5 linked regions of the Homo sapiens genome follow. The protein of the gene in region 2 interacts with the protein of the main gene of each other region in a pairwise test. Each region holds a gene or a part of one and is shown on either strand. Other genes may lie near its edges.

The links.
Region 1: the proteins of MYF5 (region 2) and ITGB4 interact in binary tests that used the Homo sapiens proteins (3 or more experiments, as listed by UniProt).
Region 3: the proteins of MYF5 (region 2) and CHIC2 interact in binary tests that used the Homo sapiens proteins (3 or more experiments, as listed by UniProt).
Region 4: the proteins of MYF5 (region 2) and RARG interact in a two-hybrid assay, tested with the Homo sapiens proteins (one large-scale study listed by BioGRID and IntAct).
Region 5: the proteins of MYF5 (region 2) and FIGLA interact in binary tests that used the Homo sapiens proteins (3 or more experiments, as listed by UniProt).

Annotation. Positions count from the first base shown.
Region 1 is NC_000017.11:75,740,604-75,746,891, reverse strand, and holds part of ITGB4 (integrin beta-4 isoform 1 precursor), read right to left. Parts: intron 6,100-6,288; coding exon 6,041-6,099; intron 5,911-6,040; coding exon 5,887-5,910; intron 4,552-5,886; coding exon 4,403-4,551; intron 4,311-4,402; coding exon 4,131-4,310; intron 3,180-4,130; coding exon 3,031-3,179; intron 1-3,030. UniProt on the Homo sapiens protein: Integrin alpha-6/beta-4 is a receptor for laminin. Plays a critical structural role in the hemidesmosome of epithelial cells. Is required for the regulation of keratinocyte polarity and motility.
Region 2 is NC_000012.12:80,715,436-80,719,711, reverse strand, and holds MYF5 (myogenic factor 5), read right to left. Parts: upstream 2,801-4,276; 5' UTR 2,649-2,800; coding exon 2,148-2,648; intron 1,355-2,147; coding exon 1,279-1,354; intron 852-1,278; coding exon 661-851; 3' UTR 41-660; downstream 1-40.
Region 3 is NC_000004.12:54,007,641-54,013,745, forward strand, and holds the end of CHIC2 (cysteine-rich hydrophobic domain-containing protein 2), read right to left. Parts: intron 2,506-6,105; coding exon 2,455-2,505; 3' UTR 2,149-2,454; downstream 1-2,148.
Region 4 is NC_000012.12:53,212,001-53,217,358, forward strand, and holds part of RARG (retinoic acid receptor gamma), read right to left. Parts: intron 3,795-5,358; coding exon 3,646-3,794; intron 3,435-3,645; coding exon 3,293-3,434; intron 2,607-3,292; coding exon 2,446-2,606; intron 2,236-2,445; coding exon 2,059-2,235; intron 1,701-2,058; coding exon 1,496-1,700; intron 1,244-1,495; coding exon 1,085-1,243; intron 1-1,084.
Region 5 is NC_000002.12:70,775,134-70,781,755, forward strand, and holds the end of FIGLA (factor in the germline alpha), read right to left. Parts: intron 2,539-6,622; coding exon 2,504-2,538; intron 2,250-2,503; coding exon 2,234-2,249; 3' UTR 2,177-2,233; downstream 1-2,176. UniProt on the Homo sapiens protein: Germline specific transcription factor implicated in postnatal oocyte-specific gene expression.

The sequences.
Region 1 (6,288 bases), on a different chromosome or scaffold from region 2:
AGTGGCACTATCTCGGCTAACTGCAACCTCCACCTACTGGGCTCTACCTCAGCCTCCCGAGTAGCTGGGACCACAGGTGCACACCACAACACCCAGATAATTTTCTGTATTTTTGGTACAGACAGGGTTTCGCCATGTTGGCCAGGCTGGTCTTGAACTCCTGATCTCAAGCGATCTGCCCGCCCTGGCCTCCCAAAGTGCTGGGATTACAGGCATGAGCCACTGTACCCAGCCTCAAAGCATCTTTATACAAGTGTAACAGGGTAGCCAGAAGGCAAGGCAAAAGGATCATGTTATCCTAGGAGTTTGAGACCAGCCTGGGCAACATGGCGAAACCCTATCTCTACTAAAAATATAAAATGGCCGGGCGCGGTGGCTGATGCCTGTAATCCCAGCACTTTGGGAGGCTGAGGTGGGCGGATCACGAGGTCAGGAGTTCGAGACCAGCCTGACCAACATGGTGAAACCCCGTCTCTACTAAAAATACAAAATTTAGCTGGGTGTGGTGGTGCGCACCTGTAGTCCCTGTTACTTGGGAGGCTGAGGCAGGAGAATCGCTTGAACCCTGGAGGTGGAGGTTGCAGTAAGCTGAGATCGCGCCAGCCTGGGCAACAGAGTGAGACTCCGTCTCAAAGAAAAAAAAATACAAAATTAGCCGTGCGGTGGTGGACATCTGTAGTCCCAGCTACTTGGGAGGTTGAGGTTGAAGGACTGCTTGAGCCCAGGAGTTCAAGATTGCAGAGAGCTAGGACTGTGCCCCTGTACTCCACCCTGGACTAGAGGGAGACCTTGTCTCTTAAAAGAAAAAAATTATTCTTTGGAATTTTTATGGGGGGACATTGGAAAAATAATGAGAACAGTTCCTGTCAATAAAAAGAAGTAAATAAAATTAGGATGTGGCCAGGCAGCCCGGGCCTGCTGACTACGCGCTCCCCTATGTTTGCTGAATGGGCCTGTGGGCCCAGGGAGGCGAGACTTTATTACTTTTGAGATAATTTTTTTTTTCTTTTTTCGAGACAGAGTCTCACTCTGTCGCTCAAGCTGTAGTGCAGTGGCATGATCTCGGTTCACTGCAGCCTCCACCTCCTGGTTTCCAGCAATTCTCCTGCCTCGGCCTCCCGGGTAGCTGGGATTAGAGGCACGTGTCACCATGCCCAGCTAATTTTTGTATTTTTAGTAGAGACAGGGTTTCACCATGTTGGCCAGGCTGGTCTCGAACTCGTGACCTCAGGCGATCCACCTGCCTTGGCCTCCCACAGTGCTAGGATTACAGGCATACGCCACCTCGCCTGGCCTTTATTATTATTATTATTTTTTTAAAATAGAGACAGGGTCTTACTATGTTGCCCAAGCTGGCCTGCAACTCCTGGGCTCAAGTGATCCTCCCACTGTGCCCTCCCACAGTGTTGGGATTACATGCATGAGCTACTGCACTGAGCCAGGTTTTGTTTCTTTGTTTTTTTGTTTGATTTTTAAAAAATTAATTATTATTATTTTTTTAGACAGGGTCTTACTCTGTTGCCTAGGCTGAAGTACAGTGGCATGAACATGGCTCACTGTAGCCTCAACCTCCTGGCCTCAAGTGATCTTCCTGCCTCAGCCTTCCAAGTAGCTGGGTCCACAAGTATGCACTACCATGCCCAGCTAATGTTTAAATTATATGTATAGACATGGTCTCACCACGTTGCCTAGGCTGGTCTTGAACTCCTGGGTTTAAGTGATTCTCCCACCTTAGCCTCCCAAAGTGCTGGGATTACAGGTGTGAGCCACCATGCCCCGCCTTTGTTTTTAATTATGGATTTGTTGCCAACATTTAAAAACTAGAAAGGCCAGGTGCACTGGCTTACACCTGTAATCCCTGCACTTTGGGAAGCCGAGGTGGGCGGATCACTTGAGATCAGGAGTTTAAGACCAGCCTGGCCAACATGGCAAAACCCCATCTCTTCTAAAAATACAAAAACTAGGCCGGGCGTGGTAGCTCACTCCTGTAATCCCAGCACTTTGGGAGGCCGAGGTGGGTGGATCACTTGAGGTCAGGAGTTCAAGACCAGCTTGGGCAACATAGCAAGACCCTGTCTCCCCCAAAAATTAAGAAGCAAAAAATCCCCACACAAAACAAAAGAAACAAAACTATGAAGCCTGTAAACCCAGTCCAGCCTGTGTGCCACCTGATTTGGCTGTACCCCAGCACTGGGGCTCAGCAGTGAAGGTGATGCTGGTCCAGCCATGGCACTCCCTGCCTTGAAGGGTTGCTCCTGCTGCTTGGCAAATTGTGACAGCCCTTGGGGAGTCTGGCCTGGGGACATGGGGTCTTCGATCCCAGCTCAAGAAACCCAAAGCCCCCTGGACTGGGGCATATAGGGGGAGTTTATCTCCAAGAGGTTTGGCTACCCTGTGGATCCTGAGTTGTAGGAGGGGACAGGAATGGTCTGGGCAGGTCCCTGGCCCATGAAGGAAGAAAGAGCCCTCTTGGGCCGGGCGCGGTGGCTCACGCCTGTAATCCCAGCACTTTGGGAGGCCAAGGCGGGCGGATCACCTGAGGTCGGGAGTTCCAGACCAGCCTGACCAACATGGAGAAACCCCGTCTCTACTAAAAACACAAAATTAGACATGCGTGGTGGCACATGCCTGTAATCCCAGCTACTAGGGAGGCTGAGGCAGCAGAATCGCTTGAACCCGAGAGGTGGAGGTTGCGGTGAGCTGAGATTGTGCCATTGCACTCCAGCCTGGGCAACAAGAGCGAAACTCTGTCTCAAAAAAAAAAAAAAAAAAAAAAGAGCGAGCCCTCTTGGCCTGAGTCCCTGGCAGCAATGGAGCCTCATCCAGCGTGTCACTGGCACCCTGGGCAGGTGAGACTCCCCTGCCACAGGGTGGCAGGAGCAGGTGGACGTGTCCTTGGGAGGCCAGCCAGGGGCACGGCCAGTATCCAGGGACTCAAGCAGCTGCCATGTGCTGCTTTGTCTTGGGAACCCAATGCGGTGCCCACGCAGCCCCCCGGGCTGCACCCTCGACCCTGTGGCGCAGCCTCACCCGGTTGCCCTGCGCGGTGCCATCCTGTGTGCGGTAGGAGACCTGGGACTTCCCGCCGTCCAGGACACGCCGGATGACAGGGATGCGGGCCACCTGGTCCCCGCGGCTGACCGAGAACTCAGGCTGCTCAAAGGACACCACGTCTCTGGCTGCAAGGAGCCCGGGCATTTGTCAGAGTGTGCTGGGCCCAGTCCCTTCCCACCTCCTGCTCTCCTGTGACCCTGCCCAGCCCAGCCCAGAATCCAGGAGTCCGCTTGGTTCCCTCTATGCATTGCCCTCTGGGAAGGGCACAGGAGCGAAACGGAAAATCCTTCCAGAAAAAGATGAGGGGCCGGGCGCAGTGGCTTGTGCCTGTAATCCCAGCACTTTGGGAGGCTGAGGCAGGTGGATCACCTGAGGTCAGGAGTTCGAGACCAGCCTGGCCAACATGGCGAAACCCCATCTCTACTAAAGATAGAAAAATTAGCTGGGCGTGGTGGCGAGTGCCTGTAATCCCAGCTACTCGGGAGGCTGAGGCAGGAGAATCACTTCAACCTGGGAGGCAGCGGTTGCAGTGAGCCAAGATGGTGCCATTGCACTCCAGCCTGGGTGGCAGAGCAAGACTCTGTCCCAAGAAAAAAAAAAGTGGTTCTGGAACAAAGTGTCCAGCAGACATCCTGGAAGGGCCAGGCAGAGGAGGGAGGCCAGTCACGGGCAGGACCAGAGATGGAGCCTTCAGCCCCAGGGCTGGAGGAGAGCAGGAACAGGCCTGAGGCCTGTGGCTTCCGGCACAGGTGGGAGGAGGGGTCAGATGTCCACGGTGTGATGCCTTGGCCAACCCTTTTTCTAGATAGAGAGGAGCAAGGGGCTGGCCCTTATGAGGATGCAACAGAAGCTTCCATTTACTGAGCGCTCACCACCAGGCAGGCACTGTGGCGAGGTGAACAGCCACGCATTCCGTAAAAGAGCCCTTACCCATTTTACAGATGGAGAAACCAAGGCTTGCAGAGGTTAAGTGACTAGCCCAGGCCACGTGGCCAGGTCGCAATTCCACTTAAGCAGGAGGAACCAGTGCCCCCGAGCCCCCGTCTGCCTTCCCCACTCTCCCCACCCAGACCCACCTTGCTCCTTGATGATGGTGATGTTTACCAGGCGGCGGCCGAGGGTGGCAGTGCCTGCGGGCACGTCGATGGCCTCCACCAGCAGCTGCTTCTCGTCGTCATCCTCAGGCCGGATAAAGAGGGGCACCCGTACGTCCACCAGCTCCACGCCCTCCTGGAACTCCACCATGCCCCGGGCGTCTGGGTGGGGGTTCGGAGGTGGTCAGAGGTGGGTCACAGGGCCACACAGGCGGGAGGTGCGAGGCAGTGGCACAGCGGACCCGCCCTCCTACCCTGGTCTGCAGTGAGGGTGTAGTAGCCGGGGGCCACCTTGAGGTCGTGGAAGGCCCTCTGTTCCACCTGCTTCTCTGTAAGCTTCAGCAGGGCCGGCTTGGCCGAGCGGGGCGCCATCAGCACTGTGTCCACAATGGTGTGGTCTTGCCTGGGTCGAGGGTGGAAGGTTCAGGCAGCGGAGGGGTCAGGCTGGCACCTGCTGCCCTGTCCCTCCTGCCTGTCTTCTCCCCTTCAGGGGCCAGGATGTAAGACAGCAAGAAGTGCAGGGTCTTCAGAGGCAGGCAGTGCTCCAGGCCTATGCCAGCCCCATACCCTTTACCCTGCAGCCTCAGCCCAGCCATGGCGCCTCCCTGTCCTCAGCGTCCTCCTCTGTGAAATGGGCTTCTCTGCCCACCTCATCAAGGGCTGGACAGCAAAGATGCTAAGGGTGTGTGTGCTCAGGCCAGGCTGCCGCGGCCCTAGCCCTGGTTCTAGTTCTCGATAGCTGGGTAACCTTGGGCAAGTCACTTAACCCTTTTGAGCCTCAGCTTCCTCATCTGCAAAATGGGAACAGCAGTGATCTCTACCTCACAGGCTTGACGAGAGGGTTGGATAAGATGACCACACACGGAAAGCCCTTAGGACAATGCTTGGCCCGTAGCAGGATAAGAAATGCTGGTCAGCCATTCTTTTTTTTTTTTTTCAAGACGGATTCTCACTCAGTCGCCCAGGCTGGAGTGCAGTGGCGCAATCTCGGCTCACTGCAACCTCTGCCTCCCAGGTTCAAGGGATTCTCCTGCCTCAGCCTCCCAAGTAGCTGGGATTACAGGTGCCCACCAACACACCTGGCTAATTTTTGTATTTTTAGTAGAGGTGGGGTTTCACCATGTTGGCCTGGCTAGTCTTAAACTCCTGACCTGAGGTGATCCACCCGCCTCAGCCTCCCAAAGTGCTGGGATTACAGGTGTGAGCCACCACGCACAGCCAACGGTTCTTACTGATGGTCATGTGCTGAGATTCTAGCTCTTCTGTCCCTGCATCAAGACCCCCTCCTCACTCCCTCTCTCTCCCCATGAAGGGCCAGGACTCGATGTAGGACCTGGGAAAAAAGGTGTGTGACCTGCTGGCCCATCCTCTCGGTAACCTGCCTGGTCCCCAGAGGTGCACCCAAGATCAGGGTCTTGGACACTGGAGCGGATGGAGATGGGTACCTGCTATCGCTGGTACCGGGTGGGGGGCTGGACAGTCACCTATATGAGGGCAGGGACTGGGTTGATTTGCTTTTGCCTGCTCTAGTCCAGGGGCCACTTCATAGCAAGCACTTCACATTAGCATTTGTTGAAGAAATGGTCAAAGGAACGAATGAAGGTCCGAACCTGACGGACACATCTGACCCTCCCTTCCTATGGGATGGAGATGGAGTAGGGACGGACGAGGCAGTGGCTGGGCTGGGGACAGGCGGGCAGGAAGTGGGGGCCCTCTCACCCACGAGTCTTCTACTCACTTTTTCCCGGCATTGGGCTGCTGCCTGTGGGGACAAAGAGGGCGCTGTGAGCTAGATAGCCCTGAAGTGGAGGCCTGATCGGCCTGGGGGCTTCGGCTCCTGGAGTCCCGGTAGGAGCGGCTCCCCCACCCAACCCGGGCACCCCGGGACTCACCGGAACTTGGTCTGCTGGAGCTTGTGTACACCGGAGATCTGCCTGTAGACCTCGTTCAGCTGCCAGGCAAGGGAGGGGCGTGAGGCTGGGCCTAGGCCACCCCGTGGCAAGCCCTCAGGCTGGGGACCCAGGGAGCCAGGCAGCCTCTGTACCCAGAGATCCTCAGGGTTGGCTGGGGCATGCCCCGTGGGGCAGCATCCTGGGCCCAGGCTCTGGCCTTCTGCCCTCTGGAAACAGATCCCAGGATG
Region 2 (4,276 bases):
TCCATTGGGGTGTTATTTTAAAAGATCATGAGCCAAAATATTTCTTGTAGTAAAAAATTTTATTTATGGTGGAATTTCCAAAATTTCTTATATCTTGAAATGATCCACAAAGTACTATTTTGTGCTTACATTTAAAAGATACATTTCTTACAAGAAAAGATCAAAATATATACATTAGGCAGTATTATATTTTTATTTAATACAATATAACTAAAGGATTAAAGAGAAAAGAAATAGTTAAATATATTTAAAATTCCATTTAACTGATTCTCAGCTGTTTTAATGTTTTAAAGAAAAAAATAAAGCTCTAAACACCAGAGACATTTTGATGAGCAATATTTATAATATATATATATGTATATATAAGTTAAGCATTGCAACAAGCTACCCTCAATCAATGGCCCCCTATCAGAAATAGTATTACTGGAACTATGTATTAATATCTAAGCAAAGAATAATAAAGAAGAAGAAAGTATTATTTGCAATGATGACTTTTTAGTTAAATACACTTTCTTATAAAGTGGCAAGGTAATCTTTACAAATTTACAACTGAAAAGAAATCTTTATGTACATGTTGTCTTGGTTTGGGACTTTTTGAAGCCTTCTTCTTCCTGTGTATTAGGCCCTCCTGGAAGAAGTCATATAGACCAGAAAATTAGTTCATAGCACATGATAGATAAGCCTGGAACTAGAAGCCCCTGGAGTTGCAGGCTGTGAATCGGTGCTGGCAACTGGAGAGAGAGAAGCCAGATCCTGGAGAGGCAACCCAGGTTGCTCTGAGGAGGTGATCCGGTCCACTATGTTGGATAAGCAATCCAAGCTGGATAAGGAGTTTTTATCTGTGGCATATACTAAGGATACAAGGAGAAAAGCATTAAAAAATAATTAGCCCAAGATAGACAGATTTGCTTATGTTGCTCCTTAAATTGTAGGTCAGCTCCTCTGACACCCAGAGGTCAGGTGGTCACAGAAAGCCTAACATAGAAATTTGCAACAAATATCTGGCAATTCCTGAGGGGTAGACGTGGGGAGTGGGGAAGCCCCCTGATAATATTTCAAGCAACATTGTGTGTGCATGTGTGTATGCATGTGTGCGTGCGTGTCTGCTAGGGGGATTTGGAGCAGAAGATGTGTTTATTTTGCTTTACCAAAGCCTCCCTATAAGAACCATCACTTCCATTCTCCCTTCCCCAATACTATCAGCAAGAACAGAATCTTATAGGCTGAATTGTTAGGTTGAACTGGTCTTTAAACTCCTGTGAAGTTATCAATTCTTACCATTTGATACATCAGGACAGTAGATGCTGTCAAAAGTACTGCTCTTTCTGGACCAGACAGGACTGTTACATTCGGGCTATAATACAAGACACACAACAAAGTTTGTTTTCAGGTCTTGGCAAAAGATGTTCTGACCAAAGGTGAGGCTGTGCTTGCCCACCAGCTCTGTAACCGAACACTGTCAATCACCTTCACTGCCTTGATTTAGGAAGGGCTAGCCCTCTCCAAATTCCCAGGGCACTGAGGTCAATCTCTGTGCTTGAAGAAGAGGAGAGCAGCAGCAAAGGGAAGAGGGGGTGGAATTCAGCAGCAATGTGCATTGGGTTAACCATGCAAAATGGATTGGAGTAGAAGAAAGCCACACTAATTCAGGGAAAGAACACTTTCCCAGGGCAAAAACACATTAAAACCTGGCAGCCTTGGAGCAAACGCCCTCTAAAAAGAATGCATCAACATCTTTCAGCCAGGCCTCATTGGAGCAGGAACTGGGGCCGTGTGGGTATTTCTTTCCATTTCCTCATTAAGTTAGAAACGGTGCCTTTAGATATTAGCGTAGGGCATGATCCACAGATGGCATATTTTGAAAATAAATTCAGGAATGGAGAAAACATCTGAGTGATCATTCACAGCCACCCATCTTCCATGTCAACACTCGATTACAGTGTACACCTAGAACCTGCTAGAAAGTTAAACTAAAATCTTGTTCAGCAGCGGTTTGGGGAGTCTTTCTAAATGTGGACCCCTCTCTTCTTTTAAAGCAACTCAGCATCTGCCTCCACCCCACTCTCCCCACCACACCAGGTTAAATGAGGTGTAAGGACTTTAGAAAAGATTAGGGTAGCCTAGCAGGTACCAGATCTATTGCTTACCATGCCATCAGAGCAGTTGGAGGTGGGGCTGGTGGGCTCCGAGCAGCTCTGTCCCGGCAGGCTATAGTAGTTCTCCACCTGCTCTCTCAGCAACTCCTGCAGGCTCTCGATGTAGCGGATGGCATTCCTGAGGATCTCCACCTTGGGCAGCCTCTGGTTGGGGTTGGTCGTGGTACACCTCTTGAGGGTTTCGAAAGCCTGGTTGACCTTCTTCAGGCGCCTCCGCTCGCGCATAGTGGCTGCCTTCCGCCGATCCATGGTGGTGGACTTCCTCTTGCAGGCTTTGCAGGCCCACATGAGGCAGTGACCAGCCTGGTGGTGGCCGGTAGGCGCTCGCACGTGCTCGTCCTCATCTGAGCCCTGCAGCTCTGCTTTGTGCGCTCCGAAGGCAGCCACTCGCGGCACAAACTCGTCCCCAAATTCACCCTCGGGGGACGGTATGCAGGAGCCGTCGTAGAAGTACTCAGAAGGTGAGAACTGGCAGCCATCCATCACGTCCATCCTGCTGAGAGGCAGGCGGTGCACCTGGACGGCAGCGAGAGGGATGGGGAGAAACGGGAGCCTGGCGCCTCCGCCGATGGGCAAATCCCGGGCGGAGCTCCCTAGTCTGTCGCTCCGGTAATTAACAAGGGCAGACGCCTGTTGGCCTGGGTAGACAAGCTGGGGTTGGGGTTCTTTATATATTCTTTCGGGAGGGAGGCCGGCCCCAGTGGCCAGGCACTATTAGCATATCCCACCGCAACCCCCGCGGGGGCTGTCTGGACAAACCTCCGCCTTTCCTCTACAGACAATCTGCTGTGTACTGCCCCTTTTGACGCTAATGGTTTTACTGTATTTCTGCTGGGGCGGCAGTGGGTCCCCAACCTGCTCATTTGCACTCTCTAGATAGGCTAAAACAAGGGATCACTTAAGGAGTGTTTCACACAAAAGTGACCAAGGCAGTCCAACTTTTTGCAATTGGACACACATTTTAAAATAGTGGTAATAAATAGAAATCCCTTTCAGCTGGCACCAAGAGCCGACCTGCCCTCCCAATCCTGGGCGTGAGGAATCACCTGATTTGGGGGTGTTTGTTTCTCTTTTTCATGAACTTCAATTATCTCGAAAACTTTTTCCAGCAATTGGATTGAATAACGGTTACTAAAAACTTGAAGTGGCATTTTCAATCTTGGAGTGAATACAGGGTTTGCCTTTCCAAATCTATTTTGTATAGCTTCAGATGAGTAAAGTTTTGCTCAGATTGTCATTTATTCTAGGCTCTACCTTATTGAGAGTAGGGAGGGAGGTTCCTTTTCCCATGACTGGGCTTGCTCTGAGTTCTCCCTGTATGTCTGCTCATCTAAAAGGAGGTGGGGCACAGGAGGGCCAGGTGACCAGGAACATTCCTCCCGTTCTTGCTTCCTTCATTTTCCCCTTCTGTACGTATTTGTTGAGCACCTTCTCCTTTGTGCCAGGCCTTCCCTAGATCCTGAGCAGGCCAAAGACCTGCACTGAAAGTGTCTCTAAGATTTCCAACAGAAGAAGCCCAGTTTTCGACGGCAAACTCCCTTTCCAGGGGTGAGTCTCCTTTCTCCCTCTCTTTCTGCTCCGCCCTGTCATTTCTACAGACTAAACAGCCAAGCTGGGCTTTGGGGTTGCTAATTTTCTGCTTTCAGGCAAACTAACACCGTTACAGATGCGTCCCAGCTGCCGCCACTGCAATCCTTGACTCGTGTAAAATTTCCAACTCCTCAAACCAGGAGTAACTTCACACACTTCAGTGACAAAAGCCTTCCAGAAAAGCAATCACAGCAGGGTCTTTAGAACTTCGATGGATAGAAGGCAAGAGGGGAGGGTTGTCATTTAAGTGGGAATGAATCTATTAATCAGCTTTTACCAATCCTCCTCCAACCTTAATCCACTTTCAGGTTATTTGGGTTGGGGAGGTGCTGTTTATATTTAGGAAAAGCAATTACTTAAGGTCTACACAATTAGTCTTGGGGTTTTGGACTAGGTCTTGTGGCCCCGTTGAAAGAAGCAGGAGTGTTCTCAACTCAATCTAGGGTAACCCAGTTCAATAAATATAGTGGCTCCGAAGTTATTGCGAGGAGGAGGGAGTTTTCCTTCCTATTATTATTATTATTTCTTTC
Region 3 (6,105 bases), on a different chromosome or scaffold from region 2:
TATTTACCTTAGCCTATGTAGAATCCATATACCAAACTTTCTGCCAATAATATTTTTTCTTGGCCAGTTTAAAAAGCTCTACAGTTTATGTCCCACAAACTTTAAGTCAGAAAACAGAAGCTGAAGAAAAATCATCACTTTAAATATTTCCTTAGACTGATGTTTACTTAATATGGGCATCTCTACTATCCAGTAATGTGGGCACTTAAATTCATGGTTCAAGAAAGGATACAGTTATACTACAGGTTACTAATGAAAATCCAAGCATGAAAATCTAAATGCCCAAGGCATAACTGGCTTATAATACCACATATTAAGTATTCACAGTTATTTTCTATATATACATTGAAGTGTATGTTTCTAGGGAATCTTTAAGCAAATGGCACATGGCTGAATAAAATCAGAAAAGCTTTTAAAGATTCTATACTTAATATAATCAACTATGAAAATTATCTTACAGTTAAAATATCCCTAAGGGAATATAGTAATTTTAAAATTATTATCCACAGTAGACTAATAACAGGAGAATAAATTATGTAAATAGATAAGTTCTTCTCATAAAGCTTATCAATATGGTGCTCTATGGATTTATACAATTTTATACAGGGAACACTGTGTTGCATAGTTTACACAGTCATTATATTTTTCTGATCTTTCTGAATCCTGAGGCAGATTTAGCGTTGTATGAAGATACAATTATTTTTCACACTGAAACCACAGAGGAATACTGAAGTTTCTAGATGGCATTATTTTTAATTGCACTACTTTAAGGTGGTAGGACACACCCTAGATACAAGTTAAATAAAATAAGTATTTGAGTTCTTTGTACTTTGAACTCTTCACAGGAAAAGTGTTCTACAAATTCAAGTTGTTACTTGGGGGGCAAGGAAAACATATAATTCTCAAGCAAAAAAAAATCTTAAATCCTAGTTTTTAAGATAGCTCCTAATATCCAAGACAGGATATAGGACATGAGATACTGGCATTTGACTATTCAAATTTATATAGGATTACAGTACTTTGGCAAGTACAAAGAAATACTTTTAAAAATACAGGTATATAAATTAATGAAACTGGTATTTAAAAGATTTAATACAGGAAAAAAGTATTGTATAGTGGTACCAATTCTCAATACAAATTATTAAGCATAGTTTATATAATTCCAAAAGTTATTAACATTATTGCTCGATACCACAGTTGTATGGAACAAGTTCTTGACACACATTAAAACTTGTATAATTTCTGGTTTATAAAAACAAAAATTTACACATAGGTCATTCACAAATCTAAAAGTTTAAAAATGCATAGAGATATGCACAACAAAAAGGAGAAAAAATTATATGTATTTGTGTATATGTATATTTAAAAGAAACAAGCTAATCTGATTTAACATGTATGTCACACTCTCAATCAAAACAAGTATACATAACTGTACTGAAAGTGAACTAGTGGATAAAAATAGTACTAAATGCATCCTCCATTTCTTATTAACAATCTTTTCTAAATATCAACGGGATATTAAATACCAGCTTACTTTTAGTTCTAGAACTTTTGCTTTCTTTCAAAAACTTTTCAGAAACATATATCCATTCTATAATTGTGATAGATTGGAAGAAATATTTTCCTTAGAAATTTTGTAAAGGAATACTTCCACTCTTTTGTATGTAAGATTTGATAAACGATAAAAACCCAAGTAAGGCCATTATTATCATCTTGATCAAAAATATACACAGATCGTGATGCTACTATATTGTGTGATCCTGAGTTCTAGTAACCACTAGATACATGCATACCATTCACTGATTTGTCTATTCTAATAAAAATTTAATCCTGTCTTACTACCTTTGAAGACAGAAATACTTTTAAAACTTTTTGATAGGTCTTCATAACATTACAGATTATCTGCCATAAACAGAGCATTAGGAATTGTATGAGAAAGGGTATGTTAGGTCCCAAAAGACTATTAAAGAAAACTTACTATTTTAAAATAATGACAATATCAAATTTGAAAAGAAAGAAAAAATGACAGAAAAAGTGTGCTTGCTGGAATAGGTAAGTTGAGCCTTACAAAGGTGTTTTTCTCTGTTAAGGAATTTATAAATAAAGGACTGTGTGTACCTTGGTGACAAAATAAAAAAGGCTGGCCACTTTTTATGCTAAGTTCAAATGTATTTTTTTGATAATACAAAAAAGTAATCCTTGAAAATCAGAATACATAACAGAAAAGAGCACAATAACTTAAGTATTAAACATCTGTATGAAATAACTGTTGCAAAGATTGACAAAAATGCACACTTAGAACATGCGGTTATTTAAAAAAAAAACAAAAACAAAAACAAAAAAAACACCACACGATTCTGTAGAACCAATGTTATGTCACCACCAGGAGAGCACCAAGCAAGGCACCATTGGAAAGACAACATACTTGGAAAGTCTCTATAAATAAAGTAAATGCTAATCTGGTCGAAAAATCGGTGTCTTTGGTAAAAATTCTATGAGGATGACCTGTAAAAGGAGAAGAAAAAGGTTTTAAAAGATTTAAACAAAATTTTTTCTTAAAACTTCAATTATATGCTTTCACAATTTTTTTGAAAATCCATTCACATTTTAAAACGCAACTTTGCATTACTAAAACAGATCTTTATCTGATAATGCAGAGTTCCATCACTGAGAATTTTTCTTTTTATTTCTGGACCTTTACCAAATACACGAAATACCTTGGCTCTATGAAAAGGAAGACAAATAAGCAAGTAAAATCACCAAAGTCTGAGAAGGGTGATATAGATAGTGCCCCTGATACACTGGAGGAGCAAACATGCATACATGCACGCTCCCCTGCACTCATGAGAAAAGAGGCTAGTATTTACTTAGAACTAACTGTATACCAGGTGTTCCATACTACATTGGGTCTCTTTAAACCCAACAACTTTTCTATGAGGCAAGTATTATAATCCTTATTTCACAGATGAGGAAACTGATGATCCAGAGAAGTTGTATCACAATTGAATGTGGAGTCACTGTTTGAATAAAAGACTGTCTTAACTCCAAAGCCTTGCCCTTTATACCACCCTACGTGACTGCAGCTCACCCAACATTTTTCTTTAGACTTTCTCCTTTTTAATCAACCCAACTACATGAGTCTTCTCTAAGTTCTAGAGTTGCTCTCATTTTACTCTACCAGAATATGTAATCTTTAGATAAAAGGTCCTTTATCTCTTAATTTTTTAAAAAGTCCATTTCTTCTTAGGTTAGCAAAATTAAAGGCTAAAATTTGTTCCAAAAGGCCTTTTAATAGGAAACTAAAGGAAAACCAACAAAAACAAAATATGGTAACACAGAATTACACAAAGTGACCAGAGCTAATTTTTCCAAATTTGAATTTTCTTAAATTACAGTCAACTCTTTCTTTTGCTCCAAATTTGTATTAAATAGATGGTGATTTAAAAATTATTTGATTTTAAAAGTTTCTAAGTCTAGTGAACTCATCATTCTTTTTCAGAAACTGTGTCTTGCTTGATATGACCTCCAGATTTCAATACTTCTACAAATTAGCTGTCTGGGCCAGGAATCTTCATTTTCACTCTTCAGTTCTCCTGGCTTTTGATCTGCCTCAATAAAGAAGATACACTTCTATACCTGGCTCAAAAATATTCCTGTCCTACTCTAGGTATCCTGCACTAAGGCTTAGCTGTCACATTTGCCACTCTCCTGACCTGTGATTTGCCTACAAAATATTCACTAGCTCCCTGTTAAAATACTTTCTCCCAACTAGCTTCTTCATTTGAGCTAGATTTTCCTGTTTCTCAGGTTTCTTATCTATAAAATAAAAGCATTGAACTAGATAACAAGATTCTTTGCAGCTTTAAAATTTGACAATTAAATGTTTAAACTACTTAGGAGTCAACATTAAATAAATAATTTTGTATTTCAAGTATGTCCTCAATCAGTCTTTATAATTTTAGTCCCCAGGTATGGGCATCCCCACACTTTATAATATACACTTTTAATACATAACATAAAATAAAGGCTATCTTTGCCTACATTTGAACTATTAGTTTTTAAATAATATATTCTACAAATTTTTCCTTCAGAAGCCACACATAGAGACTGGCCACTTGTCTCATTTATTCTAAATCATCCATCTCTACCATATCTGAACAAAGAAAAGTTAGTGCCAAGGTGGAATATATATATATATATTTTTTAGTATCTCCAATGTTCAAATTATAATCAAGGATAATTATTTTCTTTTAACAAAATTAAATTCCTGTAAGTTAAAGAAAAGTTGAAGAAAAGAGGGACACATGGTTAAAAAGGCCCAAATTCATTAGATAAAATGAATTTTATTTGCTAGTTTAACTTTTAAAATTCATTTTTATAAATTTTTTAAGCTACATTATTCTCACTTTCAACTATCACAAATATATATATATACTCTAAGAAAATCCAGCAGAACACATTTTTTCTCCCCAGCTTATTATTATTTTTTTTAAAGAGAGGTGGGTATTGCTATGTTACCCAAACTGTCTTTGTACTCCTAGACGCAAGTGATCCTGCTGCCTCAGCCTCCCCAGCTAGACTACTGGCATGCCCACTACACCCAGCTTTTTCCTGGCAATTGAAATATTTATTTTATCTTTACTACTCTTCTGGGTATCTTCTATGATGGAGTGAAAATAATATAATGGCTTTAGCAGAAGTGCTTAATTATCTAAAAATTCAAGGAAACTTATTTGACAAACAAAGCATATAGTTCAGAATGTTTTGGAAGGTTATAAATTATTTTATGAATAAATTATAGTCATATAGTTCTATCTGGAATTCATAGCATTGGGATAACTTTTATGTTTTCCTTTCCAAAGTAAATTTAGAAATGCATGAAAAAATTAATACCTCAGTTTTAAGCTTAGTGTTTGTGTTATAAATGTAGTAAATATTTTTTTCACTAAATTCTTTACATCTCCTATCCATCCCTCTCCCCAAAATATATACATAAACCCTCTATCTAAGATGAAAATACAAGAGTAGTCTCCTCACCTCAAAATGAGTTACTCAAATGTGTTATGATTATAAAGAAGTATCAAGTGTCTTTCTCATCATCATACATTAACATGTTTGATGTAGTAAAGATAAAATCTACATTATTTGGTTCATTGAATAAAGCTAGTCTAAGACATTTTAAAAATATTTTTTATGTTCAAGGCTAGAAATAGGATTTGACTGTGGGATAATGAAAGAACAGGAAAATGCTAACAGACAAAAATGATTTTATGATAATTTACAACTAAACACTGTTTTAATCAATATTTTACACATACACACGCACACATCTATGATGGCTATATTGTTTTAAAGAATAGACAAAATTCCTCAGAAATGTTGTAACAGGTACTTCACAAAGGCTCTGAGTTTTATTTTCAACTATTAACTTTTCCTTAGATCTTTTCTTTTAAAGTAATAACCTGGCCATATTTAAAATAAAATATCCAAGCTCAAAAGAGAATTAAAATTCTTAATTTTCTAGAGTATTCTGAAATTTTCAAAAGGAGAAAAACTGTTCAAGTAAATCATGGAGTCAGTAAATTAAATCCCATGCTGAGTAAGTTCTAAAATTCATTGTATATATATGCCAAATTAGATATTTTTTAACAAGTAAACACAAGATGATCAACATCTCATCTCCTGCTTACTTTTAATTTTTACAAAGCAGTATTCTAATAACACTTTAAAAGAGATTCTTTAAAGGGCACTGAGGTACGGGCAGTTAAAATCTATAAAGGGTAAAGGTTTCTTAAGCTCCAATGGCTTGGCTGAAAGGTTTTCTTCCATACTTGGAAACTTGATTAGCATTATATAAAAAAGCCATATCTGACTTGCTGCGTAACCAAAGTTGTGGTTATTCTTTATACAGCATCTAAAATTTCACACTCCATCAACACATGTTCAGGCTATTTTATCTTGGCAATTAATTTATTATTTTTCAGAACACAGTGAAGCCTTGTTTTCAAGTCATTCATAACTTTATAAATCAGTCTTGCACATGAAACCATGCATCTGTGAACCGTAGAAAATCCTTGCACTCAGGAGATTAAGCTCCTGACACCT
Region 4 (5,358 bases), about 28 Mb from region 2:
GCTCATCCTCTTCTCACTAGGCTTCCTGGGTGCCACTCCTCTGCCTGGAACCTCTACCTGGCCTTCTCTACCAGGCTTGCTGCCCATTCATCCCATTCTTTCAGGCTGTCTCTTCAGCGAGCGCAATGCACACAACTTCCAACCCCACTCCCCAAGTACCCCACTCTCGAATGTCCAGAGCTTGTCACTTGTTCCTAGTCCTGTTCTCTTAATAACATTTATTACCACAGCTAATATTTATCAAACACTATGTTCCAGACATCCTTCTAAGCCTGGACTGTCCAATAGAACTTTGCAATGATAGGAATACAGTAGTCATTGGCCACATGTGGCAATCTGAAATGTGACTACTGCAACTGCAGAATGGAATTTTTAATTCAGCACAATTCTAAGTACACTGTATATGTTACAGGTTTTTTTTGTTGTGTTGTTGTTGTTGTTGTTGTTTTAGAGGCAGGGTCTTGCTGGGTTACCCAGGCTGGACTGCAGTGGCTATTCACAGGTACAATCATAGCTCACTGCAGCTTCCAACTTCTGGCCTCAACTGATCTTTCTGCCTCAGCCTCCTGAGTAGCTGGAACTACAGATGTGCACCATGGTGCCTGGCTTTACATTGTATATTAACTAATTTAGTCCTCAAGACAGCGTTACAAGGTACGTGAAGAATAGCCCAGTTTACAAACAAGATTAAAAAAGTAAAGCAATTTGCCCAAGACTTTGTCTCTAAATATATATATACACACACACACACACACACACACACACACACACACACACACATACTTGGAATTGTGCTGAATTAAAAATTCAATTCTGCAGTTGCAGTAGTCACATTTCAGATGCTTAATAGCCACATGTGGCTAATGACTATTGTATTCCCATCATTGCAGAAAGTTCTACTGGACAGTACTGGTTTAGAAGCAATTTGCCCAAAGTCTCCCACTACTATGTGGCAGAGCTAGGATTCCAGTGTAGATTGCCTGGTTCTCAACTACTCTGTTCTTGTCTCTGTGTGTCCTCCTGTCCGACCTGGGAGACCAACAGCCCTGGGAAGACAGAGAGGGGACACCCACTCATGACTCACCCTTAGTGCTGATGCCCCGGAGGTCGGTGATTTTCATTAGCATCCTTGGGAACATGTAGGGCTGGCTGGGCCGCCGGCGCCGGGCGTACAGCCTCAGGGCTTCCAGCAGTGGCTCCTGCAGCTTGTCCACTTTTTCGGGCTCCTCCAGGTCCATGCGGTCTATGGGGACAAGTATACTGGAGTGAGAGGGGAAGGAAGAGATGGGGAAGACACAGTGACAGATGGCTGATCACCAACCGGCGTTTTGGGAAGCCTGTACAGGGTTTCAGAACTCTCTGGATGGGGCCAGGTGCAAGAATTACCAGCAGAAGAGACCACTGGGTCCTCCACGCCCCCTCCCAGACAGATTCCGCATGGAGTGGTGGGAAAGGAGACTGAGCACTGAGCAGACGCCAGGGGGCGCCCCCGCACCTCCGCAGATGAGGCAGATGGCGCTGAGCAGCCCTGTCTCGGTGTCATCCATCTCCAGGGGCAGGAGCTGCCCAGCAAAGGCAAAGACAAGGTCTGTGAGGGGCCCGAAGCCGGCATTGTGCATCTGGGTCCGGTTCAGGGTCAGCCCGTCGGAGAAGGTCATGGTGTCCTGCTCTGGGGTGTACCTTGTGCAGATACGCAGCATCTGGAGGTGGGGGGTGGAGGAGGGTTAGTGCTGTTTCTGGGGGATGGGGAAAAGAGGGAATGAGTGGAAAGTGAGGAGGTTAGGTCCCCAGTGAGTGCAACCTGAAGCAGGCATGGAGAAGGCAGAGGTGGAGGATCTGAGGCTTGGCAGGGGTAGTCCCGGGAAGTCAGGAGGAGACAGGGCATCCAAAAGTCTAGGATCAGGTCATAGGGGCAGAGGCTAAGACGAAAAGAGAGCTGAGGAGTCCCACATGTGTGGCAGGGGGTGCAGGGTAAGGAAATCTTTGCATGGATCAAGGAATTGTTGAGGGTCCCATATGTGGGTCGGGCTGTGGCAGGACCCACAGGGCCTAACTTACCAGGATATCTAGGCAGGCAGCTTTGAGCAGAGTGATCTGGTCAGCAATGCTGAGCCCTGTAAAGCCAGGCAACCGCTTGGCAAACTCCACGATCTTGATGATGCACTTGGTAGCCAGCTCACTGAACTTGTCCCACAGCCCCAGATCCAGCTGCACGCGGTGGTCTGCACTGGAGTTCTGCAGAGGGGAGGGGTAGAAGGTTGGAAGGCAAGCTAAGGCCCACCTCTGGGGGCTGTCTTCTCTCTACCAATATCCCAAGCTCTCTCCTCTGCATTCTGATGCCCTCCTTGTCCTCAGCACCAGTCGATGATAGCCTCCAACACAACCCAGCCCCATTCCCCAAAGTGAAGAGTGCCCTGCCCTCACTGGGCTCTGCCCATTCCTCACCGTGGTATACTTGCCCAGCTGGCAGAGCGAGGGGAAAGTCTCCTGATGGGCTTTGCTGACCTTGGTGATGAGCTCTTCTAACTGAGGGCTCAGCTCATAGCTGTCAGGTGACCCTTCTTCCTTCACCTCTTTCTTCTTCTTGTTCCGGTCATTTCGCACAGCTTGTGGGTGGAGGCGCAAGGAGAGGGTCAGGACCCTCAGAGCCTCCCTTTGGGTGTCCTCTCTCACCCTAATTTAATATGCTCAGTCCTTATCATGAATATCTATTCTCTGGCACTGTAATTACTGCCTCAGTTTCCCTATCACCTATAATAGCTCCTATTCCCAGGCTGGTTCTCCCCAGCCCCACCCAGGGCCTGCAGCCCCTGCTCCTTCCCCAGGCCATTCGGCTCCATCCTGTCCTTCCTGTCACCCTGCAGGAGCTGGGGGAGGGGGGGCAGGATATGCAGGCGGCAGGATATCCACTTATAGCCTTGGCAGCACAATGGGGGCGAGGGGGGGGTGGAGAGGAGGAGCCACCCCATATCCATCTCTGGCTCAGTCCAGGGGAGGGAAAGGGACTGGCAAGCCCACTGGCTTCATTTCCCCCATGAAACAGGGGGAATGTGAGACCCTACTTATTCACCCATTCAGAGGAAGAGTCAAGCTCCCTGAGAGGGAGAATGGGAAATGGTGGGGCCTCCTGGTTGAATGGAGCTAATCAAATAAGACTGGCCTGGGAGAAGGCAGCACCCCAGGGCAGGCCAAGTCTCAGAGGTCAGGGAAGTGGGAGTGGCCAGAGGAAAGAGGGCCACAGCCATAGGGTAGGACCGAAGTGCTCCTGCCCAAGCCAAGGATGGCAGCCTACCTTCCTTGGACATGCCCACTTCGAAGCACTTCTGTAGCCGGCAGTACTGGCAGCGATTCCTGGTCACCTTGTTGATGATACAGTTTTTGTCGCGGTGACACGTGTACACCATGTTCTTCTGGATGCTTCGGCGAAAGAAGCCCTGGAGTTGAGGGAAAGAGAGAGGGCCTCTGAAGCACAATGCTGGGAGTACCAGCCTCTCACTGGCCTTGCAGGTTGCCCCAAGCCTGACCTAATCTATTAACCACCTATGTGCAAAGCAGTGCTGCTCAGACACAGCATCTGTGTGCCTGGTCTCTCATCTTACTAGGGTAACTGGATCCCCCGTCTGCCCACTCCCACCACGTACACACCTTGCAGCCTTCACAAGAGCTGACCCCATAGTGGTAGCCAGAGGACTTGTCATTGCACACGAAGCATGGCTTGTAGACCCGAGGAGGCGGAGGGGGCGAGGGCGAGCTGGGCACCATCTCCTCTGAGCTGGTGCTCTGTGTCTCCACCGCTGGGAGGGAAGCAGTGATGTGAGGGTCAGGGGAGAAGGACCCCACAGACCTCCAGGCTTCCTCATCACACACACCCCATGTGCATTTGTTCCTTGGCCCACTGGTGACAGCCATCACTACCACAGTGCACTAGTTCCAGCAGTAAGCACTGTCAGAATCCTCTTAATGACCACTATTACCACAGCTTGTTGTGACCCTAGTTCACCCTCTACCCTCCACAGTCTAACCAACTTGTTCACAAGAATGCCAGCCCTCATCCTATATGACATGTTTAATCCTCCAAATTCCAGACCAAGGCCATTCCGGAAATTGACTTCTCTGGGCCTGTTTCCCTAACTATCCAGGAGGTGGGTAGAAGAGTTAAAGCCCTGCAGCTCTGAGCTCTCTAGTCACTCTCTGTCTCTTTGGTATATCTTTGTCAGGTAGTCTACTTCCCACTGTCCTCCCTGTGGGGCAATAACTCTGGGGGCAGGTAGGCAATGACAGGCTTCCTGTAGCTGCTACTGGCCAAATGACCTGCTGGGATGCTTAGCAGGTAAACCAGGACCTCATTTCCTTTCCAGTAGTACAGGGGGGATAACTCCTCAGGCTTATCTCTCTCACACTACCCCTGAATAACCATCAGAGACAGTGGAGCAAATGGGGCAAAGGTCTCAGGGGAGTGAGTGAGAGGATGCACCACAGCCTTGGTTCACGCCTGAAGAAACTGAGGCCACGAGAGGGGAAGTGACCAGCTCAGTGCCACACCACCAGCAGATCCAAGTGGCTGTGAGTCAGAGAAGCTGGGGAAGCAGAGGCTGAGGTGTTTGCTCAGTTTCTCAGGTCTGGAAGCCGTTGGAGGTGTAGCAAACTGGAGAAGTCAGGTGACAGTAGGTAAACAGGACTGATGGGGGAGGGAACCTGTTTCTGGACCCTCTCTGAGCTTATGTCTTCACTCTGAAAATACCCAATTGCAGCTCAAAAGGGGTCTCAGCCCCACAGTATGGGGAGGACATGCTCTGCTCTGTTCAAAAGGCTGCTGGGTAAGTGTGTGTGTGTGTGTGTGTGCGCGCGCGCGCGCGCGCGCGTGTGGTTGGTCTTCAGAGGCTCGGAAAATTTGTAAATTATTCAACCTGTAGGACCTGTTGCCCAAACCTGGAGGGCCCAAGTTAATGCAAAAAAATTCCTAAGACCCTCCCTAAGGTGTGTCCCACGCACCCACCTCATGAACACCTTCTCCCTTCTAACCCTCTGCAGCCCACCTGGTCAGAAGCCCGCCCCAACGCAGCCAGAAGGGCGGAAGGAATGCCCAGGATGCCAGGGTTCCACGCTAGCTCCACCCACCCCACAGGAGGGAAGCCCTACCCACCCCCAACACACATACAATCAATTAGCATAAGAATCCTGCCAGAGTGAGATTACCCAAAGAAAAAGGAGAGAGGAGAGGGGGGAAAGAAGGGTGCCTGGAGTCTATTCAAGACTAGGGATGGGGGCTCCAGGAGGGGCTGGTGCTGAGAGATGTGAGGAGGGCTGGAACGCCTTTCCCAACCTCTCCTCACTCCTCAGACCCACCACTGTGTCCTC
Region 5 (6,622 bases), on a different chromosome or scaffold from region 2:
TAGAATCGCTTGAACCCAGGAGGTGGAGGTTGCAGAGAGCCAAGACTGTGCCACTGCACTCCAACCTGGGTGATAGAGACTCTGTCTTAAAAAGAAAAAAAAAAAAAAAGGAACCAGAACTTGGGGACTTGGAAAATTTCTTAACCTATCCATATTGCAAAAATTAAGAAAGCTTACTCTGAAGAGATCACTAAGGGTGTGGCTGAGCAACCATTTGATAACAGATCATGAGTGTGACTCATATACTTAATTAGCCATCTCAGCTGAAGCCAGGAATACCGACGGGATTATACCAGAAAGACCCTGATAGCTGGAAAGAAAGGGGACAGAGAAAATGGGAAAGAATGAAGGTAAGCTGTCAGCCTTCTCAGATTCTATAGGACTAGACCATATCACTATTTGGCTACAAACATGCACTATTTAAGCAAAGGAAAGAAATGACCCCAAAGGCAACTCAGAGATCAGGGTGGCCACTCAGTGTGTGTGTGTATGTTTTGGAGGAGGGGGCACAGGCAGGAGAAGAGCTGAGTTCCTCCTCAGTTTCCGAGGGAAGGTCACCCTGCCAAGCCACAAGGATGACACTGCATCAAAGCAAAGAGGATTTATTCTTGAGGCTTAAGATATAATGGAATTTGCCTCAATAGGTTTTGGACTTGCTTGGGACCCATTAACACTTTGTTTCCTATTTTTCCTTTTTGGAATAGGAATGTCAATCCTACACCTGTCTCACCATTGTGCTTGGGACGCACATAACTTGTCTGGTTTCAGAGGTTCACAGCTGGAGAAAGATAGGAATCATAGCTCAAGTCTCACCCATACCTGATTTAGAAGATATTTAAATGAGACTTTGTACTTTAAAGTGAGAATGAGTTTAGATTCTGGGGGCTGCTGGGGTGGAATGCATATATTTTGCATGTGATAAAATGAATTTGGGGGAAGGGCTAGGGACAGAATGCTATGAACAGCATATGTTCACCCAAAATTCATATATTGAGAGCCTAACCCCCAATAAGGCTGTATTTGGAGACAGGGTCTCTAGGAGATATTAAGATTACATGAAGTCATCAGGATGGAGCCCTAATCCAATAGGATTGGTGCCCTTATAAGAAGAAGGGAAACCAAAGCTAGCTATCTCTCTGCCATATGAGGACACAGTGACAAGGCAGTCATCTGCAAGCCAGGAAGAAAGCCCTCATCAGAAACTGAACAATGCCAGACCATAATCTTGGACTTTCCAGCCTCTAGAACTATAAGAAATAAATCTCCGTTGTTAAGCCACCCAGTCTATGGTATTTGTTAAGGCAGGCTAAGCTAATTATACTTTCTGTACCTTGGTTTTCCCATCTGTGAAATGGGGATACTTATGCCATTATCTTACGCTTGTTGTAAGAACAAGTTAACACATGGAAAGCATAGAGAACAGAATCCAGCATATAATAAGTACTATGTCTTTGTGAGCAATGGTTATAAAGACGAAGTCTTTGTGCTCAAGGTGTTTGGCTGTCTACCTTGCACAAAAGGTGCCATTTGGCCTTAGCTGGGTATCTAGAAACCCTTGAAAACTCTCACTCCCCTTGGCCAATGTTTACAACTCTTTTAGCTTAAGTCTTCATTTCTATTAAGGTTAATTTCTATTGGAAGGGTAACAGTCACTTATTTCTCAAAGCAATGAAAAAAAGATGTAGGTCCCCAGAGGATGACAGTGAGTTGGAAGCAAAGGATGAAGCCCCTGAAGCCTATTTCTTCAAAGCATGAAGTTAAGGAGAAGGCAGAGTGGAGTAAACTTGAGAGAGGCAAGGCTATTTAAAAGGGTAATTGTTAAACTCGGAATTACTACAAAACTTCTTTTTTAAAAAAGAGACTCCCACGGGGCACAGTGGCTCATTCCTGTAATCCCAGCACTTTGGGAGGCTGAGGTGGTTGAATCACCTGAGGTCGGGAGTTCGAGACCAGCCTGACCAACGTGGAGAAGCCCTGTCTCTACTAAAAATACAAAAATTAGCTGGGCGTGGTGGCGCATGCCTGTAATCCCAGCTACTCAGGAGGCTGAGGCAGGAGAATCACTTGAACCCAGGAGGCGGAGGTTGCAGTGAGCCGAGATCACACCGTGCCACTCCAGCCTGGGTGATAAGAGTGAAACTCTATCTCAAAAAAAAAAAAAAAAGAGAGACTCCAAAACTTTCAAGACTGCATTTATTTGTCTCTAGAAGGTAACCCTGGGCCTTTTCATTTTTCATACTTGTGGAAGTCTGAAACAGAGAAAACATTCCATTATAAATAGTTAAAAATAAGAACCGTTTACAAAAGAAATAAAGAAATATGCAAAAAATTAATTTTATTAGTAATCAAAGATGTTTAAATTTAAAGATACTACTTTTTTACCCATTAAGATTCCTTCTTTTAATAGAGCTCATTGCTAAGAATGTGATGGAATTAGCACTCTTATTATACAGCCAGTGGTGTTATAAATTGGCACTATGCATCAGGTTATAGAATGACCTACCTGTGACTCAGCAGTTCTACTTCTGGGAATCTATCCTGCAAAAACAATACAAAATACAGAAAGGGCTAAACACATCGGTTATTTGTCACGTTTAAGAGAACAAAAAACTGAGAACATAGTGGCCAACAGTAAAAAAATTGTCCCACCTAATGGGTCACATAAACATGCCAGTGATAGAAAAATCAAGAACAGGCACACAATGTTATGTACCTGATGATAATTTTTTATTTTAGTTGCAAAGGAAAAGAAATGGGAAGGATTTTAGTGTATTTCCATCAGTGGTTTTACTAACGTGGCAAGATCATTTTGTCTCTGCTCAATTTTCTGAAACTCTCAACTTGAAGAAAAAATAAACCCATGACTGAAAAATAAAGCCGCTCAAGTCATGGTCAGGCATTTTGGATACTGAAACCTATTATGTACATCACTGTGGATGGTAAAGCACCGCAATCAAATGCTTTAACTTAGCCTTAAACATTTATCTATTTTCTAGTCCACCCTCCTTTACATTTCAAAGTTGAGTTTTGTTAGAACGAAAGTGGTTAAAAAGGACTTAACACTATCACCCACATCCCCCCCAACCCCAACACTTCACTGACTTGCAGGTATTGGGCAAGTTACTTCTGTTCCTTAGTTTCCTCACATGTAAAATGGATATAATTGTTTGTATAGCACAGGGTGGTTGTGAAAATTAAATAGGTTAATATGTATACACTGCCAGGAGCAGTCTCTGACACAAAATATGTATGAGTAGCTTTTTTTTTCTAATCTTGATCGAGTCTTTCCACTATACAAGTGATCAACATTTCTTTCTTTTTATAGTTCAGACCTAGCTTTGGAAGCTTTATTTTTAAAATAAATTTTAATTTTTTTCATATTTAGAATTTTTTATACTTGAGACAAATTCATATAAATTTACCTGAAGGATTAAAGGATGACAATATTCTGCCTATAGTCTACTGCATTTTAGAACATTTATTTTAGTTTGTTTTTAAGAATTAGCTGGAAAATTTCAGAAACGTAATATTTAAGTATGAGAATAGAAAAACTTGCCAAAGTTTATAAATGTTGTCTTTATTGTCACAGCTCATTAAAAATTGGCTGTTGGTCTCATCTAAGCCAAAGAGTTTAAGGTCCAAGAAGAGGGTAGTCTGGAGAATAGAAACCCAGTTTGCTGCTTAATATCTTTAAGAAGGCAGGCACACTCCAATTGTTGGCAGTGTGGCTGCAGAATTTGACGTATTATCCAATGTACATTCCTCCACCCACTGAGCCAGGCTTGGTGAGGGAGATGGGGTAAACAGAAATCCTTGCTCACTCAGCTTTAGAGTTCAGTCCCTGTTCCTATGATAATCTGAAAAGCAAGGCTCTTTCCAAAATCCCAGAGAACCACAAGCATAGGCACCATCACAGCACCAGCCCCTAAATCCCCAAAGTATAGAGAGCACAGTAAAATCCCAGGGCTATAAATGCAGTCGCCGGAGCAGCTTTTCCTCTGAGCCACTGTGCCTTTAGACCAGGGCAGAAAATCCCAACACCTTACCAGGTGAAATATGCTACTCTGGTGCAGGAAGGAGTGGGGAGGACTGGGACAAACCAGAAGGCACCCACCCCATTAAATGGGAAACAACTTTGGAAAATGCTGGGCTGACTAATCTCATCAGAATATGCCCCATGGGCTATTGGTGAACCCCAGGGCAGATGACTGTGCTTCTCAAGCAAAGCGAGACCCATCACTTACTGTGGTAGAAGTTTTACCATCGTATAGAGCCACTACCTGGGGGAATGTGAGGTGGAAGACAGAAGAAAGAGGCTTCAGGTCTTTCCCAAGGTGCTAATGAATTCATCCCAACTAGCCAAACCGTCTCATTTCAGAGCTTAAAATGCTATAGGAAGAAATGTCCCCAGTGAGTAATTTCACAGATTACCGCAACTTGGAACAGGGGTGGTAGGAGTCTACCATCCACACAGGATTCTTTCTCTCAGAAACTCTTTCAAGGAACATTCCCATGACATGCCAGAGTTTGGAAATATATACTGGCAGCATACCAAGGCCCCTGTAACAGATACTATGTCTCTCCATATGTCCCTTTCCAAAGGCCCTCAAGCCCCAGCACTCTTGGCATCTCACTCCAAAATTGAGGGTGGTCTTTGTCTAGAGACATGGTCTCTACAGTGTCACTGGCAACTCTGAACAAAATTTAGAGCCATGCATAATATGAAATGCCAGAACCATAACCACGAGTGGCAAATAGAAGGAATATACAATGGCAAGACAGCGAACAGCCTGCCATCTAGCAATGCCAACCCCAATATGGCAAAAACCTACACTTTGAAGCTCTAATTTTAAACAGGCCTCTCCTGGACCTTGAAATTAATTTTTCTCCCTACCAACACCACATGCTGTGGCTTCTCATGGCTCACGGCCCTCTCTGTCTGCACGAATACTTGCCAATTCATTCCCCGAGTGAACTTCTGGGGCTCTGGCCCCAGACGTTAATCTCCATCCCTGTCATCAGCAGATTCTCATGCACTTCATTTGGGACTTTGCCTCCCAGGAATGTTGTTGATCTTGCACAGCCTGCTCTGACCCCATCTCCAAATCCCCCAAAACGCCCATCCCTGCCACTACCAGGATTTCATTCCCTGGGTCCTCATCAAGGGTAGGGAAAAGGGTGCCACTCCTGCAAACTGAAGCTGGAGAGGGCCTGCCTCCCAAATCTTAAGCTCCTCTGGATATGAGCATTTCTGTCCAATGAGTCACATTATCTGTCACTAGGTCTCTAGTCTGGACAGGATCCTGAAACCTTATGGAGTCACCGCTTCAGGAAAGCTGGGCTGAATCTTTACGAGGATCCTTTTGTCAAATAAAGGTCAGCCTGAGCATCACTTCCTTGGACCCTTTTTATCTTGAGCCCACCCTGGTTCCTGATTGTAAAATGCAAGCTTTTTATACAGTTAATAAAGGTGATATTGAATAATCGCTCAACTCACATATAATTAAAGATCTCAGAGATAAATGTTAACAAAGAGAAAACTAGCCAGAAAGACGGCTGCACAGTAGGTACTTCAAAGAAAATGCGAGTTCTTCTCCCTCCTAAACAATTCAGTACTAATGTCATCAGTTGGGTCACAGTTAGGTAGTGAGAAGCCACAGTGACCCAAGTGAAGTGGTATCAGAGCCCAAGCAGGGTGAGATGGCACCCACATACAGAGGCAGCCCAGCGCAGGATATCAGAGATCCAGCAGATGAGGGGCATATTCACATGGGGGGTGTGGTCCAGTGCAAACATGGTACAGCCCAATCAGGATGAGAACGGCAGCCCCATGAAAGGAGTGGAGGCCTGGCCTGGGGACTCAGAGCCCAAGCTGGGTAAGAAGTCCATGGAAAGGGGCAGTTCAGCATGGAGTAGAGAAACCTGAGCTGAGTAGGCCAGGCACTTGTGTGTGCAGGTGATTTAGCGAGAGCAGGGAGAGGAGGAATCCACATATGAGGGGACCGGCGTGGAACGTCAGAGCCAAGAAGGAGGTTTTTGCGGAGGTACAGCTTGCCATGAGTGTTAAAGTTCAAGTGGGTGAGGAGAACAGCCATGTGGTGAGGGGATGGCAACAGAGATGGGAGATGGGTTATACACAGGGGCATCCTCAGATAAGTGGCTGATTCCAGGGCTGGGATAGAAAAGTACAAGATGAGCTTGGAACACCTTCTGCCAAAAAGGAAATGATCAAATAATCGTGATGACATATCAAACAGAAAGGCTGCCAGCTTAAGGAGCTTTCGCTGGCCACAGTGGGGACAATTGGAGCAATAAAATAATAAAAAATGATAGTATATAATAATCCACTGAATTAAACAGAAAACCATGAGCTCATACTAATATAAAAATGTCTGTATAAAAACAACCAAAATGTTCTAAAATATTTACGTGAACAGTTAAACTGTGGTACATCCACACCACAGATGACTACTCAGCAAAAAGCAGAGGAACAGACCATTTATACAATGTGGATGATCTCAAGGGCATCATCTGAGTGGAAAAAGACCATCTGTAAAAGTCACATAATGTATGGTCCCATTTTTATAGCATTCTCAAGATAAATTATAGAGGTGGAGAACAG